Linked DNA regions of Homo sapiens: all the other regions are reported to be linked to region 1. Evidence: microRNA targets listed by miRTarBase, many of them from high-throughput screens and not tested one by one. Region 1 holds a microRNA gene; each other region holds the end of a gene's coding sequence.

Evidence for each region. Region 1 holds the annotated microRNA hsa-miR-1307-3p (ACUCGGCGUGGCGUCGGUCGUG, at 2,046-2,067, opposite strand). A microRNA usually pairs through its seed, bases 2 to 8, with sites in the 3' UTR of a target mRNA and lowers its output. Matches are read on the target gene's strand: a 7mer-m8 pairs with bases 2 to 8, a 7mer-A1 pairs with bases 2 to 7 and ends in A, and an 8mer does both.
Region 2: miRTarBase lists HS3ST1 as a target of hsa-miR-1307-3p. Seed matches in the 3' UTR shown: 7mer-A1 at 687-693.
Region 3: the mRNA of SF3B5 is a reported target of hsa-miR-1307-3p. The part of its 3' UTR that is shown has no 7-base or 8-base seed match.
Region 4: the mRNA of RAB27A is a reported target of hsa-miR-1307-3p. Seed matches in the 3' UTR shown: 7mer-A1 at 2,623-2,629.

Annotation. Positions count from the first base shown.
Region 1 is chr10:103,392,256-103,397,407 of GRCh38, forward strand. It overlaps MIR1307 (microRNA 1307), which reads right to left and starts at 2,146; the gene lies at 1,998-2,146. ATP5MK (ATP synthase membrane subunit k) reads right to left here and starts at 4,220. Exons shown (of 5, transcript NM_001206427.2): 1 at 4,154-4,220; 2 at 3,491-3,777; 3 at 116-211; 4 at 1-28. The coding sequence starts at 202. PDCD11 (programmed cell death 11) reads left to right here and starts at 4,371. Exons shown (of 36, transcript NM_014976.2): 1 at 4,371-4,475. RefSeq lists enhancers at 3,483-4,315, 3,708-3,797, 3,948-4,197, 4,855-5,152.
Region 2 is chr4:11,394,857-11,400,008 of GRCh38, forward strand. It overlaps HS3ST1 (heparan sulfate-glucosamine 3-sulfotransferase 1), which reads right to left. Exons shown (of 2, transcript NM_005114.4): 2 at 1-5,152. The coding sequence starts at 5,149. The coding sequence ends at 4,226. Among named protein-coding and RNA genes, the nearest start is that of MIR572, 29 kb to the left of the region's middle. RefSeq lists an enhancer at 1,929-3,128.
Region 3 is chr6:144,090,470-144,095,621 of GRCh38, forward strand. It overlaps SF3B5 (splicing factor 3b subunit 5), which reads right to left and starts at 5,104. Exons shown (of 1, transcript NM_031287.3): 1 at 4,415-5,104. The coding sequence starts at 5,028. The coding sequence ends at 4,768. RefSeq lists an enhancer at 4,854-5,152.
Region 4 is chr15:55,200,957-55,206,108 of GRCh38, reverse strand. RAB27A (RAB27A, member RAS oncogene family) reads left to right here. Exons shown (of 7, transcript NM_183235.3): 7 at 404-3,143. The coding sequence ends at 602. Among named protein-coding and RNA genes, the nearest start is that of RSL24D1, 6.6 kb to the right of the region's middle.

The DNA.
Region 1 (5,152 bases):
CAATGCTTCCATATGTGGCCAGTACACACTGAGAAAGAAAGAAAAAAGTAAACAAGACTTGTTGTTCCATCTATATTATTTTAAAATATAACTGCTTAAAGTTATCAATACTTACGTTCATTCTACCTGTGAGAGTATAAGAGTTGAAATATTTTTTAATACCAGTGAACTGGTATTGCGCATCACTTTCTGGACCTGCCATGATTTCAATCTTTTAAAAAAAGAAAGAAAGCAACATTAAATTGGTTTGGATGTAATTTAAAAGTAAATAAATTTTGTCTTGTTTTAGTCTAAAAACTCAAGGTCACTGCATATAAATACTGTAAATTTTTATCTATATCTCACCCAACACAGTAGTAGCAAAGATGGTGGAAAAAGCCTTCCTGAAAGAAAAGCTTTTGGAAGTAGGATTTTACCTTGATCGCTATTTCATGAACACCTCAGAATACATCAAATCACACAATAGCCCCTGCTAAGTTCATTCTCTGACCCAATACAGCTTAATATTTTCATTCCTGGCTCCATCACACCACAGTCCATTGAATTAATCCATTTTAAGGCTACTCAAAAATTGGAGCTGGTATTTTTCAAACATTCAACGGGTGACCATCAACTAAACAGCTCAATTACAACCCCTACTTATACAATTTTTCTTGTTATAAGTAATTTAGGACCTCCATGGGAGAAGGGAGAAGGGATAATTTATTAAATGGAGTTAATAATAGCTACTGGTGGTAGTAAGGAAGCTGGAATCCTTGCACCACCACCAAAATAGATAAAAGATTTAAATGTAAATAGTGAAACCAAAAAGTCCTGGAAGAAAACATGGGGAAATATTTAAGTCATCTCAGGGAAGGGAAAATATTAAGAAAAAAAGCCAAAAACCAAAAAAAACATAAAACCTATTAGTCAAAGAAATGTAAAATGAGATCAATATTTAATCATCAAACAAGCAAAAATAAAATTATGGTAAGTAGTAGTATTAAGTATGTGAGAAAACTAAGAATTCTCTCTCTGTTGCTTGGAGTATAAACTGGTAAAACCAGCCTGGCACGGTGGCTCATGCCTGTAATCCCAGCACTTTGGGAGGCCAAGGCGGGTGGATGCGAGGTCAGGAGATCGAGACCATCCTGGCTAACACGGTGAAACCCTGTCTCTACTAAAAATACAAAAAATTAGCCGGGCGTGGTGGTGGGCGCCTGTAGTCCCAGCTACTCGGGAGGCTGAGGCAGGAGAATGGCATGAACCTGGGAGGCGGAGCTTGCAGTGAGCCTAGATTGCGCCACTGCACTCCAGCCTGGGCGACAGAGCGAGACGCCGTCTCAAAAAAAAAAAAAATAAATAAATAAAAAATAAATAAACTGGTACAACCTTCAGAAAGTGCAAGTTGGCAGTATCTTATCGAATTATAAAATGAGTATACCCTTTCATCTAGCTGGTGTTTTTCTCCAGGAATTTACCCTTATTGAAATATTACAAAGTGGAAACACATTGTGTGGTTCAAAGATGGTCAATGAAATACTGTTTATGAAAATCTTAAAAGTCCATCTATAGAAGACTGATTAAAAAATGATGGTTTCCATTAAACGACACACAACAGGCACAGATCTTTGTGTACTGACATGGGAAGATGTCCCAAGTAACGTTCAATTTTGTAAGAAAAAATCTTATTTCTGGATTTTATAAAGCACGTCAATGGTTCTGGGTCTTGTCCCTAGACCAGCAGCATTAGCATCACTGGAAACTTGTTAGTGCAAATTCTTAGGCCCTACCTATTGAATCAGAAACTCTGGGTCCAGGAATCTATTTTAATAAGGCTTCTAGATAATTCTAAAGCATGCTAAAGTTTGAAAAATACTGCAGTAAATGAAATAGAAAAATAGTAAGTGTATTAAAAAAAACTCTGGAAGAATATATAGCAAAGGCAGCTTAATCTATAGTACCTGTGTATTTTACAAAGGCATGAATTTCTTTTATAGACAAGACGTATTCAAAAGGTCACCAGAACAAGAGCTGAAAATTCGTATGCATGACCGCCTATCTACCACGACCGACGCCACGCCGAGTCGATTGGCAACACAGACGAGCCGGTCGAGGTCCGGTCGAGATTGGTAGGCAGTGACAGTGACTCAGCTGGGTCTTGATGAAATGGAAGAGGGAGATATCTGTCAGGGAGTCATTACTATGGAAACTGGAACTCCCCCATTCAAAGGCTTTCAGAGGCATTCTTGTGTAAAGAATTGGCAATGAAAATTTGAGAAAAATGACCTTAATTTTCAAGTTTCAAGAAGGTTCTTGGAGCAATGAAGGAAATCCAAACTTCCTTAGGCCTCTTCAGAGACCTTGGCCAGTCTAGCCCAAGTAGGAAAATCTCCATTAAAAATAACTTTATACACTTGATCTTAGCCAACAGAAGCGATAAAAGCAACTTTATAATGTAGCTATCAACTGTTCCACTTTACTAAACTTACTAAAGACATACTTCCCCCCGCCCCCCGCCCCCCCACCAGCTCCATTCATTTCATGATACATTTTTGGATTCACTTCTTAGGGTTTGAAGTAGGTTTTTAGGAGAAACGCTACAGAAAATAAGGGCTTCACTTTGACCATTAACGAAAACCTCCACTACATTACATCTAACTAAACTTTTTAGGAGGATATGCCCAACAATACTACAGCGCTTTAAATTTCCCTTTAATTTACACACAATATGGGAGGAAGGCTGATGTTTTGTGATATCCCACAGAAGACTAATTCTGATTGCAGGGAAGTGCATGGTTCAAGAACTGAAATCAATCACTCAAGTTAGTCTGGGTCTTAAAGGAGGAGGACTCTTGAGAGGCTCAAATGGAGGGCCAAATGGGGAACGGGATTGTTGCTGGTGAGATAATGGAGTAAGGTCGAAAAATTTGGTTCTGCACTCTTCAGCACGGTGCAGGTTACTTTAGGGCAAAGATAAAGGAACCCTTGTGTTTACAGTGCCCTTTGTAAGACTCCTAGTTGTGATTTAATGTTGTTAAACGGTGGTATGTTTTAATTAAGTTGCTAACTGCCCTTCTTGAGACAAGGTCTCGCTCTGTCGTCCAGGCTGGAGTGCAGTGGCGCGATCTCAGCTCACTGCAATCTCCGCTTCCCGGGGTCAAGCGGTTCTCCTGCCTCAGCCTCCCGAGTAGCTGGAACTACAGGCGCGCGCCACCACGCCCGGCTAATTTTTGTATTGTTGGTAGGGACGGGGTTTCACCATACTACTCAGGCTGGTCTCGAACTCTGGACCTCAGGTGATCTACCCGCCTCGGCCTCCCAAAGTGCTGGGATTACAGGCGTGAGCCACCGCGCCCGGCCACTAACTGCTCTTAAATGTAACTAATCCTTCCGTGCCTCTCTCCACCTGTGAGATGGGCACTTTATTAAAGGTCCAAAGTGACCAGTAGCTCTTGTTACTTTCTCTGTTCCTCGATATTGCTATTTTCCTTTCTAACTTAACACCTACCTGGAATGGTGAGATCACGAGGTAAGGAAGGCAAAGATGAGTGAGAACCACTCAGGTAACAGAAGCAGCCTCTTGCATTCACGGAGTTTACAGCTCTCTGTTCTGGTTACCTCCTAGGAAAGGCCTTCCCACTGATCGTCTATAGACTGAAATCTAACCCTTTTACAGCGGGCCTGGCGAACTGTAGGGGCCGGGCCACATTCACTCGCTTTGAAAAAGGCTGCAGCGCACCTAAAGGAGGCCCGGCTGGCCAGCTTCCTAAAGCACAGCTCGGTGGGAACAAACAGCTATGGACATACAGAAGAAAAGAGGTTAATTCGGCCGGTGATGGGGATCAGAAGCCCTAGTCCTCGTCCAATATTACGTCACTGGGTGACCTCGAGGGACGCTTCGCGGAGGGCCTCATTTTTCTCCACTGGCGAATGCAATCTAAGGGTCTTCGGAAACTGTGGGAGCCCTTGGGCGCACCTATCCGCCTCACCTCGAGGCTTCTCACCCGCTGGCCGCCCCCTTGCGCCCCTCGTTTTTTCTAGCTCCTTTCCCATTCCCCACCGTTTCTCTCCTCCAAAGCTAAGAACTCGAGTTGCTCCTCGGCCAGAAACGGCGGGCGGTCCTGCAACGTGCAGGCGCCAGGTCCAAGCCCGGACTCCCCTCTTCACCCACCTGCCAAAGCCGCAAATTCCGCAGCTGGTGTCCTTCAACGAATGTAACCACCTCTCGGCCCGGCCGGAAGAAGCCACCTCCCCCGCACGCGTTTAGCCGGCCCCCGCGATTCGGCCTAATGCGACGATTGGCTATGGCTCCAAATCCCGCCCTTCCGATTCCTGTCTCTAGGTCACCTCCGCAACACAGCAACGGAAGTAGGGTGTTGAGCCCGCCCACACTTCCGGAAGAATTGCACTGGACTGTGGGTATCCTGGTCTCCGCGTGTGTGAGTACCGCGGCGCGAGGTTAGTGGTAGCTGGGTGCAGACGCCGTGGCGCTGGTGAGTAAAGGCAGAGGCGAAAAAGGAGGAAACCTCATGGCTGTCAGGTCTGTCCCAGGCCTGGTTCCCTGCCAGGCACACGCTAGATGAGTGTGGTTCGGCCACCTTAGCCCCGCTTCGAAGCCGGCTCTGTTGTAGCAGCCCCTGTAACCCCAGGCTTTGTGTTCGGAAAGTAGCCTAAGTATCTTCTGTGCCCCTGGATCGCCTTACTTTTCAGAGCCTCAGTTTCCCCTTGCTTGAAAGGAAATTAAGGGTGAAATTATCAGCAAACTAGACCCCCCAAACTTTCCTGTTTCTATGAATCATATACCCATCCCTGATTCCATATCCTTGGCCCCACCCGGTCATCACTTCTTTAGTCTAAAGCCCTTGTAGAGTCTTATTACCAAGTGTCTGTCAGAACTAACCTCTCCTGTCTTCTGTTTTCACTTATACCCAGTTCTGGTTCTCATGGTTTCTCTGCTGTACTGCATTTGAATCCTTTTTTTTTTTTTTTTTTTCTGTCACTGAGATAACAGGAAACAGTGCATTTGAATCCTTCTACCGAATTTACTTGCCTTCAATACTGTCTCTCTTCATGTCCAATCTATAGCCTGCAGTATATTTTTCTTGCTTACTGTTCTCTCGCTTTCCCTGCTTAAGTCTCTGACTTGCCAAAGCAAACTACCCATATCTAA
Region 2 (5,152 bases), not on the chromosome of region 1:
TAGGTTAGAAGCAATATATTTAAAATACCAAGCACATGGCAGGTGTGCAACAAATGATAGCTATTTTTATGCAACAGATACACCTGCACAGGAGCCAAATTCACATGGGTGCCTGCTAAGTAAGCTTCCAACACTCCAGCCTTGGAAAGCAGTAGCTTCTCATTGAGTTTAACACATTTGACATGCCACTCAGACAAATCTCTTGCCTACCTCTACCCTCTACCCCCAGCCTCTCCCCGTGACCACTGTCTTCATGTCTCAAGCTTCCCTTGTTCAGAATGCCCTGCTCTGGTGACACTACTGCCATTCGTGCGTGCCCCAGCTTTATGGCAATTCCTCCATGAAGCCTTCCCACAGGAAGGTCAGGGTCTCTGTGGCCCACAAGTTAAGTGACCTGCCCTGACATGCGACCTCTGGGAAGATTCTCTATTTCTTAATATTTCTGAGAAATGACATTCTGGAGAGGGTCTCTGATATTTTTCACCTTCTTTTGTGATTTGTGATGTCAACATTTTCCATTTCTGGACTATTTCCCTGGAGTGAGCAAGAATCCTTTCTTCTGAAAAAAATGACTTGAAGTCAGGATTACTTTTTTATTTTTTTATTATTAATTTATCTTTTTTTTTTTTTTTTTTTTTTGAGATGGAGTCTTGCTCTGTTGCCCAGGCTGGAGTGCAGTGGCATCATCTCGGCCCCCTGCAACCTCCACCTGCCAGGTTCAAGTGGTTCTCTTGCCTCAGTGTCCTGAGTAGCTGGGATTACAGGCACTCGCCACCATGCCTGGCACATTTTTGTATTTTTAGTAGAGATGGGGTTTCACCATGTTGGTCAGGCTGGTCTTGAACTCCTGACCTCGTGATTCACCTGTCTTGGCCTCCCAAAGTGCTGGGATTACAGGCGTGAGCCACTACACCCGGCCAGGACCACTTTTTAAATCTCAGTTTCCTCTTCTCTATAAGGGGGCTAGTTGATTTCTCTCAGGAATGTTGCTGAACTGAATGCCAAACCATGGAACACATTCCCCCACCCATTCTATACACAGCTAAATGTCTTTGCCTTTGTACTCCAAGACCCTCTGTACTTTTATTAAAGTCCAGAACAAACAGTTAATGACTACTGGTTCCTGTTGTATTTTCTTTTTATATTCTTGAGGACTCAATACCATGTTGAGCATGTGGTAGGGGATCAAAAAAGTAAAATTTTAATGAATAATGGTGACCTGTGACACCACCCCTGTAAGCAGCAGGCACGCTAGGCATCGGCCTCTCCTGCCCTCCATCTCCTTTCAGTTGGGTAAGCCTCCAAGCACAGAAGGAGTAAAGCACCCTGTGCTCAGAGGCATGTCACTTTTCCTAAACTTGCAAACCTTCAGGTTGTGAGCTGATAACCAAATGGTGTTAAAAGGATTTCAACCCTATCTGATTCCAGGAGGAAGGGAAAGGGAAGGGGCTGTTCTGACTCTGGAGTGTCAAGTGTGTGAATATTCCAAATCTAATAGCTGAGGCTTGGTTCAGTTGTTCTCACTTGCCTCTCTGGAAGGACCCACCTAGATCCCCCAGGCTGCTCCCGGGCCGGGGTGGTCTGGACAGGAGACCCACCCCTTCCACTGACACCTGTCTCTGTTAATGGAATTGGTAGAAGGCATGTTTTGGAGGGACCGGGTGCTATTAGGCTCCTGAGTCACTGCATTTTGGCCCTGTAAGGACAGCCCAGGGTCTACTACAGGGCCTCCTTTGAATTTGACAGTGCTTGGTGAGATCTAGCAATAAATACCTTGGGTAAGTCTGGAGTGATGGTTTCTTACACAGTGTACCTTCTCAATGACTGGCTGGGGTTGTACCAAAAATGAATGAACAGATAGTGCCACTAGGACCTCTGATCCCTTGCTCATGGTAGACTCATTTGAACATTCCTTTAGCCACGACTCTGCACCCCCAAATGAAAACATATTGAATTTACATTCACTGATCATTTTACACTGGACCACCGCCTCCATCGACTATGCCAGTCCCAGCAGCTAGATTATATTCCATGTGCTGGTCCTGTCTTCCTCCACTCCTCCCCGCTGCCTCTTGCATCCACAGTTCATGCTTCTACCAGACCATCCCTGTCAGGGGACAGGAATTTACAGGCAGTTTGCAAAGAGCATCTTCTTCAGTCAGAGACTCTCATTGCAGTTTCCTTTCAGTCACCATATTCCTGAACAGGCTTGGAAACTTGACTTAACCTTGCTGGGCCCTCTTATTTCTTCAGCTCTTCAAGGAGTATGGTAAAAGCAAGATCCAACGATGTGCTGCAGAGGGAGGCTCTCTGCCTATTGAAAAGTACCATGTCCACCAGGGGCCTGCTGTAAATATTTCTGCTACTTCCTCTGGGGGAGATGATGGCTTAATGACAACTTCAATGGATTCTAAAGAGGAAGGCATCCTCTCTGCTCTCTGTTCATGATATGGGGTGGGGCATAGGCCATGCTAAGGTCAGGTCAGGCTGGAGCTGCTGAAACGTACCAAGGTGACTCACTTCCCTGATAACACTGCTGAGAAAAATGCAGGCTTCTTCTTGCCCTTCCTGTATCTGGGACACACCTCTTAGGATGGAAGATATTTGGCACCTGGGAAGAAATGTTAAGTCAGGTCAGGAAGAACTGGCTCTGAGTCTGGGCTTTTCCTTTTGAGTTCAGAAAGAGTTGGGTAAAAACTAAATACATAAATAACCTGTGCTTTGGCTCTGAGTAGCCTCTAAGCCTGAGTTTATAGTCAATGTGACCTTGGGCAAGTTTCTCATGTTCTCTGGGCCTAATTCCTCCTCTTTGAAATTTCCATAATAATATCTGCATCCTGGGGTTGCTTGGAGAAATTTCAATGAGTTCTTAAGTGTAGGAGATGATTAATAACGTCCATTTCTGTCATTTTCCTGCGGTATAAACCATGTCAGGAAGCCGGTTTATTTTGCTTGTTTGTATTTTCTCTTTTACTGTAATGAATGTTTTATTTTTATTAAAATCCAATGGGTTTAATTCTGTAAAAGGCTGACTGCATGAAGAATGCATGAAAAAACTGAGGATAAGAAGGGTTTATGTGACCATCTCCAACAAGCTGGCTGCTCAGGGGCAGAAGTAAAACTGAACTCCAGCCACTCCTCTGGGGGCAGGTACAGTGGTTCTCTTAGGTGCTACCTTCAACTCTGCCCTTTTCTCTTTTTAACTTCAACACTTGGGAACTTACTTTTTCTTTCACATTCAGGACTCCAAATTTAGAGTTGATTTTGAAACATACACATATTTATGTCTCAGTGCATATGGAATATATGTCTATAATGCCAATGTGTCTTTCAGGAAGTAAGCAGACTTTCAGACTAAGCAAAAGACTACTACCCTTTTAGTCAGCCTTTCACAGAACCGACAGGATGAAGACACGCATAGATTTCGCAGTTTCTCTTTTCTATTCTAATTGGCTTTCTGGAGGCCAGCTGCCACCTGGGGCAAAGTATCCAGGTCCAAGATCATTCTGAAGGCCAAGGGTTTAATCCTCTTTATTATAACTGCTGAGATCAGAAGCATGTGCAAATATTCTTTGAGGTCAAGATGGATCCCAAGAGACCTCTAGCCAGTCACTAACTGCTTCTCCATCCTGAATATTGCTTTGTTTACTTGAAGTTTACACATGGGAATGAGTAAAACTGTGACCTCCAAAAATGACAAGGAATCGCCGAGGAGATAAATCTTACAATCCAAGTAAAAATAAATCTGATGATCACAATGAGACATTAAAAATTAAAAAGAGCAATGCAGAAAGGAGAGGGGAGAGAGAGGATTGTAATAGCCATGAAAAACATGTTTTTTTAAGTAACAAAAGAATTTAGATTTTGCAATGATTGCAACACAGACAGCTATTTTGAGTTGGGGGCAAGTTAATTATATTCAAAAAAACATAGCGTCTCCAGAAAAAATCTTTTTTTTTTTTTCAGTGAAATAGTTTAGTTCCTTCATATAGAGACATATTACACAATGTTAACAACCATGAAAAACAATACAAAATGCCCTCCATTTAACAAGTAGAAAAATATAACTAGTATATATGGCAATTGTGAATCTAATACTGTACAGAAGTACTTTATGGATTTTACAAATAAATTATACCTTAAATGCTTTTTTAAAATTCTTTTTCCCCTCAGATGTACACCAGAACTTACAGTAGGAAAGTTTCTGAGCTTAGCTTATTGCAAATCAGTGCCAGTCAAATGTTCTGCCAACAAGCTCGAAGAACTTCTTATTTGGCTCATGAAAATATTCGTGCAGTTTATTGAGTAGTTTGGGATCGACTTGGGGGTGCGCCCGGCCTTTGGACTCATGTAAGCAGCGGTCCCGGCCGCTGTCCCGCAGGCAGTAAAAGCCCTTGGTTTTGTTAAAGTAGAAGTTCGAAGCATTGATCTGCGGCGACAGCTTTAGGAACCTCTCGACCTTTTGGATCTCAGGGAAGGGGTCCCTGATGAGGCGGTCGCCGTCCACAATGTGGATGTGGCGCAGCGGGAAAAAGCGCAGCCAGTTCTGCATGTGCACGTGGTAGAGGCTGCGGTTGAGGGCCTTGTAGTCCACATTGAGCCTGCCATCGCGCACCAGGAACTCCTCGATGGACGGGTAGGGCTTGTGCTTCTGCATGTGGTTGTAGAACACTTGGGTGTAGTCAGATAGCACGCGCTCCGACGGGTCTCGCAGGATGAGCAGCAGCCGGATGGACGGGTTCATGCTGTAGACTCGCTCAGGCACTTTGGGCGACGTGAAATACGCGGGGGTCTTCTCCACTGTGAGCTGGTGTGGCCAGGAGAAGGGCATCTGGCTGAGGTACCAGCCCAAGCCGTGGCTGTAATGCTCCTCCCAGTCGAAGAAGTGGACCTCGTTCTCCGCGGCCGCCACGTCGGGGTGCAGGCTGAGCATCTCCAGCAGTGCGCGCGTGCCGCCCTTGCGCACGCCGATGATGATGGTCTGCGGCAACTGCTGGGCAGAGCCGTTTGGGGCCACGCCATCGCGGACGTCATCCTGGAGGGTCCCCGCTTTCCGCAGAAGCTCCTGCTGGCCTAGCTCGGCGGGGCGGGAAGGCACTAGCTGGGGCTGGGCCACCAGCAGCACCGCGCCCAGGAGCAGCGCGGCCATGCT
Region 3 (5,152 bases), not on the chromosome of region 1:
TACATCACTCTAAATAAATATAGGAACCGCTTATTTTTCTCCGAAGTTATCAGGAATCTACAAGTTTAGATCTTTTTCTGAAAGTAATTTCCATCTGAGTATCATCTGCTGCCCTCCTGTGTTTGACACAAATATTCTCTCAGATGAGAACAACAAAAACAGAATAGCTCAATTAAATTTATTTGGACGGCACTTTTACTTTCAGATACTTGAAATGTGTTTCCACACAAAACAATTGTGCTGCCTACTAAGATTATTTTTCTTCAATCTTTATTCAATATATTTCAAATTACATTTTTTACTTAGAGTTATATGAGATCTTTCATATTGGTCTGATATTCTTTCAATATAATCTACTAAACTTTTAGTATTTCCATTTAAAAAATCTGAGACAACTTATTTCAAATTATTCTAATACTATTTTTGTATACTAGACCTACTTGGGCAACAGTACAAGACTCTGTACTTCGAAACTAGAAAAACCTGGTTACTAGTTGTGCGATCTTGTGCAAATTACTTTTCTGAACCTGTTTCATTTGCAAAATGAAGACAGTACCTCCCAAAGATCACACAAAACACTTAGCACACCATAAAAATGCTCAATATGTTAGCTGTTATTAATACTATAGGAAACATGCTTTCAAATGGCTCTTCTTTGGTATTACCTATTATGGTAAAGTTAAAGACTGCCTAAGAACATGAATTAGCATGGGCCCAATATATCACCTGGATTAAGCCCTGTCCTTTGATATTCAACACTCAAGATTTATTGGACACCTGGGATGTGTTAGACATCATTCTAGATACTTAGGATATATTGGTTTGTAAAAAAGACCAAAATCCTTGCCTTTGTGAAACCTCACTCTTCATGGAGGTCTTTAAGTTACTGACTTCCTTCTAAATTCTTACTGTACATGTTACTCATTTCTTTACATATGCTATCCCATACCATATATCCAGTCCTTTCCTCTCTATCTCCAATGCAGGCTGTCATCTCTCTTGTTCTACTGCTACAGCCTTGAATTGGGGACAGGAGCTCACTCTAATGACACTTTGTATACCTTTATCAAGTTTTGTAAGGATGGTGACTTAGTTTGACTCTGCTACTCTTTAAAGAGGAAAAAAAATTAGTGTTGACATTTTTATTTAATTGCCAATTATTACAATCTATTTTCTTTTACATTACCCCAGTCTGTTCTCAACACAGCAGCCAGAGGGATCATCTGAAACCACAGTTCAACTGTTTTTCTTGAAGCGATGGCCCATTTCATTCTTTTTTTGTTTTTGTTTTTGTTTTTTTGAGATGGAGTCTCGTTCTGTCGCCCAGGCTGGAATGCAGTGGCACGATCTCGGCTCACTGCAAGCTCCGCCTCCCGGGTTGACACCATTCTCCTGCCTTAGCCTCCCCAGCAGCTGGGGCTACAGGTGCACGCCGCTACGCCCAGGTAATTTTTGTATTTTTAGTAGAGATGGGGTTTCACTGTGTTAGCCAGGATGGTCTCAATATCCTGACCTTGTGATCCACCCGCCTCAGCCTCCCAAAGTGCTGGGATTACAGGCATAAGCCACCACGCCCGGCAATTTCATCCATTTTTGATAAAATATCTGCCAGATACCCAAGTGTAAACAACCATAGTTTAATCTCCTATAGTCATTCTTTCCAGTAAAAATGGTAAGAAAGAAATCCCAGGGAAACTGAAGCCAAAACTATTTTCATAAAAGTAAGATTTTACTTGCCTTTCTTACCATTAACATTTGCACAGATGGTGCAAAAGCAATAGTGATAAAACTACCAGCACTTAGCATGAATCAATGGAGGGGCACAAAAATGTATTGCTAGTCATTGTATACTTCATTGCCATGCACCCTCAGTAAAAACAAAAACAAAAAACCTCAGTTTCACTTAAGAATGTGCTTGATGAAGCAGTAAAAATTGCTAACTTTATGAAATCTTAGCCCTTAAGATGTCTTTTAATATTCTGTGTGATGAAATTCATAATATGCATAAAGCATTTCTGCTGCCTACCAAAGGACAATAGTTTTCTCAAGGAAAAACACTTTTTATTATTTGAGTTGCAAATTGAATTGGCTGCCTTTTTTTTTTTTTTCTCAAGGCACATATTTACAAGAAAAAAATGACAAACTGTATCTTGTTACTCAGACTTGGGTATGTATTGGGTATGTATTTGGCAGACATTTTCTTGAAAATGAACCAAGTGGGCCTTTCACTTAAAGGAAAACAATAATATTTGCTATCAACCTCATGCTTGATAGCTTGATCAAGTTCAAGCTATCAAGTAAAAACTTAAACTTGTGGAAAACTTATACCTTCACAGTAGGTCTTTCAGTTTCCCAATACTATAAAACCTTCCTGAGACAGGGATGATATTACTCAATGTGATTTTTGATATGTATAATGAATGTAACAACATTTGGAAGGTCTGTATAACTCAGTAACCCATTACTTTTCAGATGACTGATGCATGATGTTCCAAATCAGGTATGGGTAAAAGATCCATTCAAAGCTCAACATACATGAATGAATTTTAATGGAACAGAATAAAAAGTTCATTAAACCAGTTTCAGATTCCATGTTGTAACTAACCTTTAAGAAACTACCACTTGTTGGGTTTTAGTATAATATCAAAGAAGTATATGTACATCTATTTGAAAAAGTTAAATATTGCTCCTATACTAAATATTTATGAGAAGTGGATTTTTTCATACTTCGACAAAAATTTCATATCCCAACAGTTTGAATGCAAAAGCAAATATGGGAATCAAGCTGTCCTCTATTAAGCCAAACACAGAAGACCTCTGAAAAACCGGTTTTTCTTAAAAGCCATTCTTCTCACTAAATTATGTCTTGGTAAATTGCCATTTTTCATAAAACAAAAAAAGTTTTTGTTAACATGAAATGGTTTTATTATCATTATTTTTACCATTGACCTTTCTGAGAATTTTCATTATTTTTCAATGAATTAAAACTTTTGTTTTCATTTCTATGGTGGTGAATATCAATAGCCACAATCCACATAAACAGAGGCTCTTTGGTGTCTTCTACAATTTTCTAGTGTAACGAAAAGTTAGGAGCAATGACTCACCCCTGTAATCCCAGCACTTTGGGAGGCTGAGGTGGGTGGATTGCTTGAGCCAGGAGTTCAAGAGCAGCCCGGGAAACATGAGACCCTCATCTCTACAAAAAAACTAAGAAATGCAAAAATTAGCCGGGCATGGTGGCACGTACCTGTAGTACCAACTACTTGGGAGGCTGAGGTGGGAGGATTGCTTGAGCCTTGGAAGTTGAGGCTGCAGTGGGCCATGATCGTGCCACTGCACTCCAGCCTGGAGTTCCAAAGCCACCACTGAGCTAAGCTATGCCAGGTCACGTGACTTCTCTGCGTAAAAACCTTCCAATGGTCTGCAGTGGTGGCTCACACCTGTAATCGTAGCACTTTGGGAAGCTGAAGTGGGAGGACTGCTTGAGGCCAAGAGTTCAAGACCAACCTGGCCAACATATCAAGATCCATCTCGTGTTTTTAAAAACTAAAATTAAAAAAAACCACAACCTTCCAATGGCTCCTCAGAGGTTCATATATTGTCCTACAAGACTCTACTCTGTTTTCCCCTCCATTACCTGTCCCTCTACTTTTCCCCTTACTCACTCCCTCCAGCCATGCTTGCCTCTTTGAAGTTCCTCCAATAAACCATACATACTCCCAGCGTTAGTACCATTGCACTGGCAGTTCCCTCTTCATGGAAAGCAATTTCTCCAGTTTTCCGCATGGCCATTTCCCTCATTTTCCTGAAGTCTTTGCTCAAATGTCACCATCTCAGTAACTTGTGCATCATATTTAAGATTACAGCCCTACCAGCTACTCCCACCCGCACCACATACATTGTTCTCCCCTCCCCGCAGCATCTTCTAACATTTGCTTATTACATCTAGTGTTTGACCTCCTTTCTCCACCACCAGCATAATGTAAGCCCCAAGAACACGGGAAAATGCCTGTCACATAGAGCTCAACAAATATTTGTTGAATGTAGAATGGATGAACTCGCTTGCCAGCTTGTCATTTCTGGAGACATGGCCACAAATTCCCAAGAAAAAAAAAAGGATGCATTTTAAAGAGGCTAGGGAGGACAATGACAGCAAAGACTGCAAAGAGTTTTAAAACAGGAGAAAAAGAAGATGGGATACAATAACCACAAATTTCAATACTGAAGGCATTGTGGGCCTGAAAATAACGCTCTTGGGAAAAGTGGCAGTCGGGGAATTAATTATAAAGGTAGACACGGCGGATCTAAGTGCCTGGCCATGGACACTGGCATGCGCTCCCTCACCCAAACCCACTTCCCGCTCAGCTCTTTCCGGAGCCTTCCACCCTAACACAGAAAGTTCACACCAAGAGACTGAACGATTTCTAAACTTTATGGAAAAAGCCAATGACAATCAATTAGCCAAAAACGAGACGCCAAATCCCATCTCACTCCAGCGCCATGCCCTCTTCTCAAACGCTCGCCGGCTCTAGGACCTCTCCACCAGCACAGTTCTCAGGAGTCCTGCTGGTCTCCCAGTGCTGTTCTAAGGGTCCACATGAAGGCAGGTCAGGCGGGACTCCCCGGGCAAGCACTTCTGTACGCGGAAAGCACGAGGCGCAGGAGCCATGGAGAGCCGGTCCTTTGGAGACAGGAATACTTAAGAGGATTGGCAAACCGGAGAAACGCTGGGAGAGGTGCCCCGCACTGCGGTGGTAAGGCAGAGTCTCAGTTCTCCTCGGGCTTGTCGGCTGGCGGTCCACAAGGCTGAAGCATCTTTTCCATCAAGTTGAAGCGGACTCGCGCTTTGCTCTCATTCTCCGCAATGGCGAAGTAGTTGAGAAGGTCGAAGTGGCCCATGTAGGAGCAGTACGAGTCGCGGTGTTGGTTCACCAGCCACTCCCACTTGGTGGTGTCGGCGTGGCCCGTGCCGATGTACTTGGACTGCAGGTGCTCCAGCTGGCTATGGATGGTGTAGCGGTCAGTCATCTCGCCGCTTTCCCCTTCGCTCTCAGGTCAGAGGACGCAGGTAACAACTCGCCGCTCTAGCGTTTTACAGGAGAGTGAAGCCACCGCGCGGAAGCTCCAGGTCCGCGCCGTCGCAGAAGAATGG
Region 4 (5,152 bases), not on the chromosome of region 1:
CTCCCCAGTAGCTGGGATTACAGGTGTATGCCACCATTCCTGGCTAATTTTTGTATTTTTTGTAGAGATGGGGTTTCCGCATGTTGGCCAGGCTGGTCTTAAACTCCTGACCTCAGGTGATCTGCCCACCTGAGCCTCCCAGAGTGCTGGGAGGTGTGAGCCACTGCGCCCAGCCAAAAATTGATATTTTGAAGAGTCTAAAATTTCCAGTTTTGCATATCTACTGGAAATGCAGTGTGAGTATTTTATTGTCTTTTTAACTTTTTAATGTACTCTGGGGTGGTAAAATGTTTGTCATCTTGTATATTTGTATTCTATCGATTCTCTAATTTGAATTATCAAGAGCAAAGGTCACTCTCCTTTCCCTCCACATGTTGTTACCTCAGTTGTCTCTGTCTTCCAGAATCCCCTACTTTGAAACTAGTGCTGCCAATGGGACAAACATAAGCCAAGCAATTGAGATGCTTCTGGACCTGATAATGAAGCGAATGGAACGGTGTGTGGACAAGTCCTGGATTCCTGAAGGAGTGGTGCGATCAAATGGTCATGCCTCTACGGATCAGTTAAGTGAAGAAAAGGAGAAAGGGGCATGTGGCTGTTGAGAAGTCAAGTAAGCGACATAGTAGTTCAGGTGGCCCATGCCTGGGATCTTCTCTATGATTGATACATGGCACAGTGAGAGATTAATGGGCATTGTGTACAAATTGCTTCTCACCATCCCCATTAGACCTACGAATAAAGCATCCGGTTCTAAAATTAATTTGTTGCAGCTTTGTAAATATTTCTTTAAGATTCAGCCTGAGAGTTAGGAGAAATATTTCAGAGCCAAAAGTGCCTTATACAACCTTAGCCTATTATAGTAAATCATTCAAGGATTCAGAATTTTGCAGTCACAGAAGAGTGTATTTATTATGTAGAATGAATGAGGGTACTGTCACCTGCCTTAATGTAGGTAGGCCCAGAGTCTTACATTTAAGATCTTACATGCAGTTATAAAACCGCCACAGTCTTCAATCCAGATTTGAAGACTCATGCCATAGGTGACATTCTAAAATACCATTAAAGCCACTTAAATGTTAAATAAGAATATACATGCACATCAGCTCAATGTCTTTGAGTATTAATTTTATGTAAGCATTCTATTTAACATGAATATAGGACAAATCATGGCTATATCTATAGACCTTGGATAAACTGGATTGACCAATTATACACTCACGGTGACTTTTTTATTGGTGGGAAGGGGATTGGGGTGGGGCAGGCTGGCTTAATGTAATATGAGCAACCAAAGTGGGACTTCTGTCTCCCCGCTATATTCCCATTGCTCTGAATGGTTGATTGAAGGGTCAGGGAACTAGATTTTATGGCTTTAGTTCACTGTGATTGTACATTTATACTTGGCCTATGTGCTGGCCGCACCTGAACATAGCTGGTGCTTATGCCGAGTTATTTGCGATGAGTAAATATTTAGTTTCTTTTTCTTCATATTTATAATGTTGATCTGGCATCCTCAGGCTGCAGCTTTATTAGCTTATAACTTACTCATCTCTATCTTTACCAGCAGGCTCTGTATTGTTGATATTTGCAACTTGTTTTGCTTTTCCATTGGTGGAATTGAAATAATTAGTTTTTAATTACATAAGATGCCTGTTTGCTATTTGGTGGAAGATAGATGTTCATATTGAAGCAGTCACATTTGTACTGTAGTTCAATAAAAGAAAAATGAAGTATTCTGTAGCCTATATTTTTCATAGAGCTCATGAGCATTTACTGTACTTGCTGGGTCTTGCCAAGATCATTTATTCCGCTGCATTGCCAAAGTGTCTTCATACCAAATTAAAGGTGGTTTTAATATATGTTTCATGGAAGTTGTTTATAAAATTCAAAGGTATTTCATTTAGGTGAAAAGTCTTATTTATTAAAGTGGTTTGAATAAAGTAGATCAAAACTTCCAGAGATCTTAATGGCTATATAGGAAGAAATATCACTCACCATAATTTAAATAAAGAATAAAAATACTTGTATTTTGTGGTGGCAAATGTTTGGTAGAACTGTAATTAGAAAAATACAAGTATATTTGCGTGATGGTTACACTAGAAGCCCAGACTTTACGACTACACAATATATTCATGTATCTAAACTGTACTTGTACCCCCTAAATTTATTTTTAAAAAAGGAAAAATAAAAGTATCATGAAAAAACCTATTTTTTTTTCCACTGTCCTTCCACTACTCCCATAACAAACTTATCCATGGTTGGTAAAATTTTACATATTTCTATCCTTGAAATGAAGGCTTCTTTTAAATTCCAAAGAAGTCATGGAGGCCTGTGCATTTGAATTGTATATGCTAGTGAGGAAAAGATTTAGACATTTCAAGAGCAGGGTTGGCCAGGCGCGGTGGCTCACACCTGTAATCCCAGCACTTTGGGAGGCCGAGGAGGGCGGATCACGAGGTCAGGAGATCGAGACCATCCTGGCTAACACAGTGAAACCCCATCTCTACTAAAAAAAAAAAAAAAAAAAAAATGGGCTGGGCGTGGTGGTGGGCACCTGTAGTCCCAGCTACTCAGGAGGCTGAGGCAGGAGAATGGCGTGAACCTGGGAGGCGGAGCTTGCAGTGAGCCGAGATTGCGCCACTGCACTCCAGCCTGGGCGACAGAGGAGACTCTGTCTCAAAAAAAAAAAAAAAAAAAAAGAGCAGGGTCATAATCACACAGCAGTGCCTTATATAGTTGCCATAAGACTTCAGTGCAGTACAACATAATTTTACAGCTACATATCAGGGCATATTCTATATGGTGTATTTGTGTTAGAATAACACATTAAATGTCTTTAAACATAAAAATAAGAATGTTTGCATGTTTCAGTTTTCAAGAACCAAATGAGTAATTAGCTATAGATTCCACTGGCCTTAAACATACAATTAAGTGTATACATGATATAGTGCACACACAAAAGCCACCTTTAATTATTGAAATAACCTGTATTCTTTTTGGAAATCATTTAAGTTTGGTATTGAAGTACTATATTTTTTGTGCATCAATGTATTTTTCTATTTACAAGCCTATGTAAAAGTGAAGTGTATCTTCAGTGAACCATGTGCCAATTAAGCTGTAATAAAAAAGTGGTCTAGTCTGTCAAATTTGTGTGTGAACGTAACTGTATTTATTATCACAAAGTTTCATACCAGAGGTTGTAATGCCAAAGGAAATGAAATTCAGGGATACACGTTCCATTAGGTGCTCACTGAGGGGCCAGCCAAGACAACATATTCTGGAAAAGTAATTAAAAATGTTATCAGGTTGGGCGCAGTGGCTCACGCCTGTAATCCCAGCACTTTGGGAGGCCGAGGCAGGCAGATCACCTGAGGTTGAGAGTTTGAGACCAGCCTGACAAACATGGAGAAACCCCATCTCTACTAAAAATACAAAATTAGCTGGGCGTGGTGGCGCATGACTGTAACCCCAGCTACTTGGGAGGCTGAGGCAGGAGAATCGCTTGAACCCAGGAGGCGGAGGTTGCACTCCAGCCTGGGCAACAAGAGCAAAACTCTGTCTCAAAAAAAAAAAAAAAGTTATCAAACATATATTGAGCACCTATATTTGGGAAGTGTTGTAGTAGACAATCTCAGATAAACAAAACAAGGATGATTGAGGCCTGAACTAAGATCATGCAGGGCTGAGAGATGATGCAAGAGACACTGGGGAGGGTACAGTCATGGACTGGATGAGGAGGGTATATGTGGAGAGATGGCTTCTCTGACCTTCTGACCTTATTTCTTACCACTGTCCAACTCACTCTTCTCAGGCACACTGGCCTCCTTGGAGCAGTCAAGCATGTTCCTGCCTCAGATCTCTTGCATTTGCAGTTCCCTCTGTCTGGAATGCTAGTGTTCCATGTATACCTCTCCTATCCTTTAAGACTGTTCAAATGCCACTTTGTCCAAAGAACTTTACTGACCACCTTATATAAAAGAGCAGTCACTCCCATTCATGGCCCCAACCAGATTGTCACTCCTTGACCTGTTGTTCTGCTTTGCGTTTCTTCATATCACTCAATGTAAATATTTCACCACCTGATGTATTTACAATTATTCTTAGCCAAGAGGCTGACAAGTGATTCACTTGACATATTTATATATTTGTCTACATCCACTAAGATACAAGCTCCACAAACAAGGACAGGGATTTAGGTAGTTTTCTTCAAAACTGTTACCGTCACTCAGAAAAAGGCCTGGTACACAATAGGTACTCAAATTTTTGTTAATTGACTGAGTAAAGGACTTAAAGAGGCAGCAGGGTCAAGAGAGTTTTCAAAAGAGGCCACTGTTAATGTTAAAAGACAGAAAAACGCAATTTGAAAATAAAAACAGCGTTAAAAATGTTTAAAAAGGTTCACATATAGTAAGTCCATACTAATTCATTGCAAGAAATCAAGAAATCTAGGCCAGGTGTGGTGGCTCATGCTTGTAATCCCAGCACTTTGGGAGCTGAAGTGGGTAGATCACCTGAGATCAGGAGTTGGAGACCAGCCTGGCCAACATGGTAAAACCCAGTCTCTACTAAAAATGCAAAATTAGCTGGGCGTGGTGGTTCATTCCTGTAATCCCAGCTACTGGGGAGGCTGAGGCAGGAGAATCGCTTGAACCCGGGAGGCAGAGGTTGCAATGAGCCGAGATCACGCCACTGAACTCCAGCCTGGGTGACGAAGCAAGACTTCATCTCAAAAAAAAAAAAAAATTAAGAAATCTGAGAGATAATTTCTGATCTTTTGAAGTTGATGTCAAGATGGCTAACAATCTATTTAAGACATGTTTCACTTGGTATTTTTATAAATTGGAAATCTCTATGGTGGTATTTCCAGCTCTTCTGTTATTGGTAATATAGGTATTTATAAAACTAATAAGCTCTTCCATTATAAGATACTTAGATAATGCTGGATAAAGTATGAACATATTTTTTAAAAATGTACCGATGATTTCTCAAAAAAATATGGGCAATGCCCTAAGACCACCTCCTTCCCCTTAAAAACAGACAACAGATGGAACTTAAAACAACCTGATGCTGATTGTGGTTTGCTTTTGGTTTGGTTTTGCCAGTATCGGTAATCAGGATGCTTTGTTATAATGGCTACAAAGAATTAGTAAAGAAA